Regions from separate parts of the Homo sapiens genome. Here region 2 is linked to region 1. The links come from fine-mapping of genetic effects on gene expression. A gene starts in region 1. The other region holds a variant in brackets. All regions are shown on one strand. Distances are from middle to middle.

What was found. PIP is the estimated chance that this variant, and not a neighbour inherited with it, causes the effect.
Region 2: its variant is fine-mapped to the expression of PRUNE2 in T cells (TOPMed, PIP 0.95).

Annotation. Positions count from the first base shown.
Region 1 is chr9:76,904,507-76,907,420 of GRCh38, reverse strand. PRUNE2 (prune homolog 2 with BCH domain) reads left to right here and starts at 1,307. Exons shown (of 19, transcript NM_015225.3): 1 at 1,307-1,493. The coding sequence starts at 1,458. RefSeq lists a silencer at 1,178-1,237.
Region 2 is chr9:76,700,916-76,703,829 of GRCh38, reverse strand. It overlaps PRUNE2 (prune homolog 2 with BCH domain), which reads left to right. Exons shown (of 19, transcript NM_015225.3): 9 at 1-493. Among named protein-coding and RNA genes, the nearest start is that of PCA3, 62 kb to the left of the region's middle. The variant G/A (reference allele first, on the strand shown) is at 1,805.

The sequences.
Region 1 (2,914 bases):
GAGAATCAGAGCATCACACCTGAACTGCACATTAGAATCACTTGGGTCACTTTCCACAGAAATGCTGTGGCCCCATGCCCAGAGATATTAATTTAATTGGACTGGGATAAAGCCCTGGTATCAGTACTTTCTCAAGTCTCAGGTGATTACGATGTGATTTTACTGTGCAGTCAGGGTTGAGGCTACTTCTGTAGAACAGCTGAGGCTGGGGGCTAGGACAAGGGCTGGAAGGATCTTACAGGTGGTGTGCAAAAGCCCAGAGGTCAGAGAAAGCCTGATGTAGTGTGTTTGGGGACCGGACAAGGCTACATACAACAAAACCCCATGATTTAAAATAAGGTTTGTAGATATAAGTTCATTTGTTCATTGTAGTACTTCTTAAACTTTAACAAGCATAGAAATCATCTGAGGGTCTCATAGAAACACACAGATTCTGATTTGGTAAGTAGGAGCAGGGGACTGAGGTTCTGCATTTCTATAAGATCAGCGATGCTGATGTTGCCGGTCTGCAGACTGCACCTCACCTTAGCAAGGTTCTATTGCCCCAGCTTTCCCTGAGGGTACATGTCAGTGGATGGGAACTGCAGAAGGATGTATCTATGCATTAGTCCCAGGGCTGACATAAGGGCACCTAGTTGGGGTGAACTGTGGATGCCCATTGTTGTGTGGACATGTTTTCATGGTAGGGAGGAAAGACGCAGCCTCGCCCAACCTCCTAGCCTGCTCTTCTGATTATTATCCATCAAGGTCGTACTGCTTTTAGCTCAGCAGTAACTCCCCTCTTTCTCTCCTCGTCCCTCCCACGCCAATCTAGCTGAGTGCCTCCCCCGGCCAGGCCAGCCGACCAGATCATTAAGTGACCGCCGGAGTGCTCCGTAACGCGCCAGCCAGCCAGTGAGGCGCTGGGCGAGGCGGGGGCTCTCCTGGGACCCGTCTCCCTCTTCCCACCTTCCCCCGCTGACCGCGGCGGTGCCTGCGGCAGAGCCTCCCTCTGCAGCAGCCCCTTGCACTTGGCTCGCACTTCTGGGCGCTGTCCATGGTTGCAGCAGCTTTCGGCGCGCCACGTCAGGAGGCCGCAGCACGGCCCTGCGATTGGCGGAGGAGCCCCTCGCCATACCCCTGCACCTCCGCCCACGCGCCACGGCGCCCGAGGCGCGTGCCAGAGAGCGTGCCCGGCGCGCCCCGGGGCTCCTGGGCGGCACACCCACTTTCCTTATTAGGGCAGAGTCGGGTGCCCAGAGCCGGCGGCCGGGCGAGGGGTGGGGCGGGGAGCCCTGGGCGAGACGGTCGAGGGCGCAAGCACAGCCTCCGCCGCAGCCGCCTCAGAGCGGCAGGAGGGAGCAGTCGGTCGCTGCGCCCCGGCGGGCCACTTTCCCGGGACCCCGCTCGTCTTCCTTGGGCCGAGATTTTCCACTGCGCCCCTCCGAGTACCCGGGTTCCAAACCCCTAGCCACGACATGGAAGAATTTTTGCAACGCGCCAAATCTAAACTGGTAAGTTGAGTGAGCAAAGCTGTGTGTGTGCGCGCGCGCGTATGCTAATGGAAAGGTGGAGAGGAAAAGGTGTTGCAGCAGAGGAGGAAGAAACAACTTTGCCACGGAGTTATCAGGGTGTGCGGGTTGTCTCCTGGAAGAAATCTCAGGAACTCTGGCTCTTAAAGCTGGCAATCTGTCTCCAGAATCCTCCACCGCAACCAGACGAGGTGCAGAGCTGAAGGAGGTTGTGGCCTGGCTGAAGTTGGGTCGCTTCAGTCCAGCTTCGGTCCCTAAATCAGCAGTTTGCTCCTGAAAGCTAAGGGATAAATGGGTGTGGTCTTCCTTGAGATAAAGAGCCCAGCCTTCTGCAGATGCATTACGTGTAAGTGTAAAAGGAAAAAAAGAGACCCTTAGAACTGTACTTCAGCTGGAGGTGACAAAAGTGAGGAAGTCAGGGTGCTGGGTAGCAAGGACATGTGTGGTACTGGAGAATCCACAGAATAGAGCTTGCTCCACTGCAGGAGTTAGGGATATTCTAGTGTGTCTTGTGTCTCGCTAATTCCTGTTCACATCTGTAAATTGGGGCGGAGGCAGAAGGGGAAAGCTCTAACTGTTGGTGTTCTGGAGTTTACCAGATCATCGTTCTCCCGGGAGCAGACCTGTGTGTTAGCCCATGTTTACCATATCACTGTCCAAACAGTGAATGGGCAACTCCACTGTGTATGTTAACAGTTGCTACACATTCTGAAACAACAGACTCTAGCAGTTTCTTAATTCCAAACTGTTTTGGCTCTCCAGCACAGCAGTAATAAACATAATGGAAATGTTTCTGTTTTGGCAGAAAAAAAAAGAAAAGCCTGTACTCATTTAGAAGCAATATCTTTAAAGAACTGTAAAAGCACCTTTTACAGGCCTGGCATAGAAAGAAATGCATAATTTATGATGCCTTTAACCTTTAAGCCTTCATAGAAGCCAAAATGTAAAGTCTGCATTAAGGTAATGTTTTAATCACAAGGCAGGATATTTGCAGGGTTATTACTGTAACTCATTTACCCTCGCACAACAAAGGGAGTGCAGGAAGGGAGGGCCCAAAGATGCCTGAACCACCATTCAGAGTGCAGACGGAAGTGTGATCCTTACAATGGTCTAACTGTAACTATCTTGTAAAAGACCATTAAAGTTGATAAGTGCTTATATAAAACTTTCTACCTGAAACCTCCCAGAGAGTTGAACGTTTGTGGAGATTTCCGAGTTGAGGAAGTTTGTGATCATCTCTGTGTTTATTGACCCTTTTATAGTTTTACTAGAGCACATGGATGAAAATACTAATTTCAGAAACTCAAGTAAGTATTTGGCATTTCTGATAGTATAAGTACATGTTCTGTTCTTTACCTAGTAATGAAGGAGAAATGTTCAAAAATGAAAGACAATTTTGGCAA
Region 2 (2,914 bases), 200 kb after region 1:
CAGACACATGTCAGCCAGCCTCCTTAAATGAAAGAAAAGGTCTCTCTGCAGAGAAAATGTCTTCTAAAAGCGATACGAGATCATCTTTTGAAAGCCCTGCACAAGACCAGAGTTGGATGTTCTTGGGCCATAGTGAGGTTGGTGATCCATCACTGGATGCCAGGGACTCAGGGCCTGGGTGGTCTGGCAAGACTGTGGAGCCGTTCTCTGAACTCGGCTTGGGTGAGGGTCCCCAGCTGCAGATTCTGGAAGAAATGAAGCCTCTAGAATCTTTGGCACTAGAGGAAGCCTCTGGTCCAGTCAGCCAATCACAGAAGAGTAAGAGCCGAGGCAGGGCTGGCCCGGATGCAGTTACGTTGCAGGCTGTCACCCATGACAATGAATGGGAAATGCTTTCACCACAGCCTGTTCAGAAAAACATGATCCCTGACACGGAAATGGAGGAGGAGACAGAGTTCCTTGAGCTCGGAACCAGGATATCAAGACCAAATGGGTAAGCAAAAAGCTAGATTTATTTTTTTTCCTGAAAAGCAATTTATTTAGAAACCTGGGAAATGGTTAGAGGTTATGGAATATGAGGAATACCTGGATGATAGCAGCTTTGCTTATATTGAATGCAAGGCACACCATCAGTAAAAGCAGCTACTAGATAACTATAACCATAATGATAATTTATGTACATTTTCAGCCAAAAAGCCCCTTCAATTTTCATTCAGTCTTATACCTACCCCCCAACTGCCACCCCACCTACTTGAATACCTACATGACTCTTCAACAGGCAGTTGGGAATACAAGGAAGTGACACTAACATTTAATCAGCACCTACTATGTGCAAGGCAGTTTGCATACATTATCTCATTTAATCCTAACATGCCAGTGGGGGGAATGGAAGGAGTAGGGTTGAGTAGGGGGATTCAAGGCTCAGAAATTTTCTATAATTTGCCTAGAATTAAGTAACCAGAGTGAACACCTGGGATTCGAAGCTTGCCACCTCCAAAGCCTGTACTTTCTCAGTTGACACACCGCTTAGCATACAGAGGCATTTTCATATTTTCAAATACAAGGCATTTTCTGGTTTTATGTAAGCACCTAACTTATAGTTAGATAAGAGACAGGCTCCACAGCAGTCTCCAAATCTCAGTGTAACACATTCATTCCCTAATTGGCAGAGAAATTGGCAAACTGTCATTAAATCAGTGATTCATTCATTCATTCATTCACCATGTGGTTTTTGAGAGCTTGCTCTGTGCCGTGGTTCTGGGTAGCCAATGGGCATATATCAGGGAATAGGATGTCATCACTGCCCTCAAGCTTCCAGTCTCTGCTGAAACTGTTTAGCATTCTTCATTTCTCTTCATTTGTGTTTATGAAGCCCACCTGCTTCCAGGGACAAAAGAACAAATTGTGAAAAGTAACTTAAGTAACGGGGAAAGTCATGTTTTCTCCTTAAAATGTAATAGAGAAAAGATATCGGCCAGGTGCGGTGGTTCATACCTGTAATCCCAACACCTTGGGAGCCCAAGGTGAGTGGATCACTTGAGGTCAGGAGTTTGAAACCACCCTGGCTAACATGGTGAAACCCCGTCTCTACTAAAAATTCAAAACTTAGCTGGGGTGGTGGCAGCACCTGTAATCCCAGCTACTTGGGAGGCTGAGACAGGAGAATTGCTTGAACCTGGGAGGTGGAGGTTGCAGTGAGCCGAGATCGTGTGACTGCACTCCAGCCTGAGTGACAGAGCCAGACTCCGTCTCAAAAAAAAAAAAAAGCGAGAAAAGATATATTTTTGCTACTCAGCTTGGGAGT[G/A]TAAAGGACTATACACATCACATACCCACAGTGAGTCAAGGAATCTGGATTCCAGCCTGCCTCTACCATGACTGATTATACATTTTAGGATTAATCCCAGGCTTAGGTTTTCTCATGCGTAAAATTAGTGAGTTGGGCTGAAAGATCTCAAGGCTTCCTGCAGTATTAAATTCTGGGAACTTAATTTGTGTGGAAACAGAATGTGTCCAGGGGAGCTTTGGCATTCACAAATTACATTTCTTGATGAAAGGAACAAGGACAATGGAAAGAATAGCTGGGGTATGTTGAGGATTAGCCAAGTGCAGAAGGGGTTAAAAGCTCTACCATATTCCAGGGCAGCTTCATAAATCCAGACATTGTCAGCTGGCCTAATCCTTCTTTCTTCCTGTCAAGCTATTTTCTTCCAGAGAGACCCCAGATCCGTTATCAGAAAGAGAGTAGCAGATGGATCCCAGCAGCCCTGCTGGCATTGTTATAGATTGAGCTCAGAACTCAGGCAGCCATGAGTTGGCTGAGCTATTGTTTGGCTTCTTGTGTGCATTTTGCACATGCCCCGAGATCCAACAGATGACAGTCAGTGTTCAATTGTGCCACCAGCACCTTTTCTTTCAACAAGATTTCTTTGCTCATCCCTTTCTGCTCAGCTTTTGTAGTACTGAAACTTTTCTCACAATGGGGATGGGGCAGATTTTCCCTCCGGCATGTGTATTATCTTTTGCATAAATAATTTACTGTGAATGTGTAAGTCTCCCTCTGTGCTAGATTTTGGGAGAATAAAGAGTTGTCTAAAACTGTGGTTCTCTAAGTGGGGTCCTAAGAACAGCAGCATCAGTATCACCTGAGTACTTGTTAGAAATGCAAATTATCGGCTCCGACTCAGACCTCCGGAATCAGGAACTCTGGGGGTGAGGCCCAGCCAGCTGAGCTTCAGCAACTCCTGATGCCCTCCAAAGCTTGAGAACCACTGGTTTAAAACATACTGTCAGCCGTCTAGGAGTTTACAGTTTAACTAAAGAGTTAGACATAAGTAAAAAGGTAGATAGCAGTGTAATATTTAAGTCAAGCTAGTCAATGCCCAATGTCAGTTTAAGTATAAAATGGGTACTAACT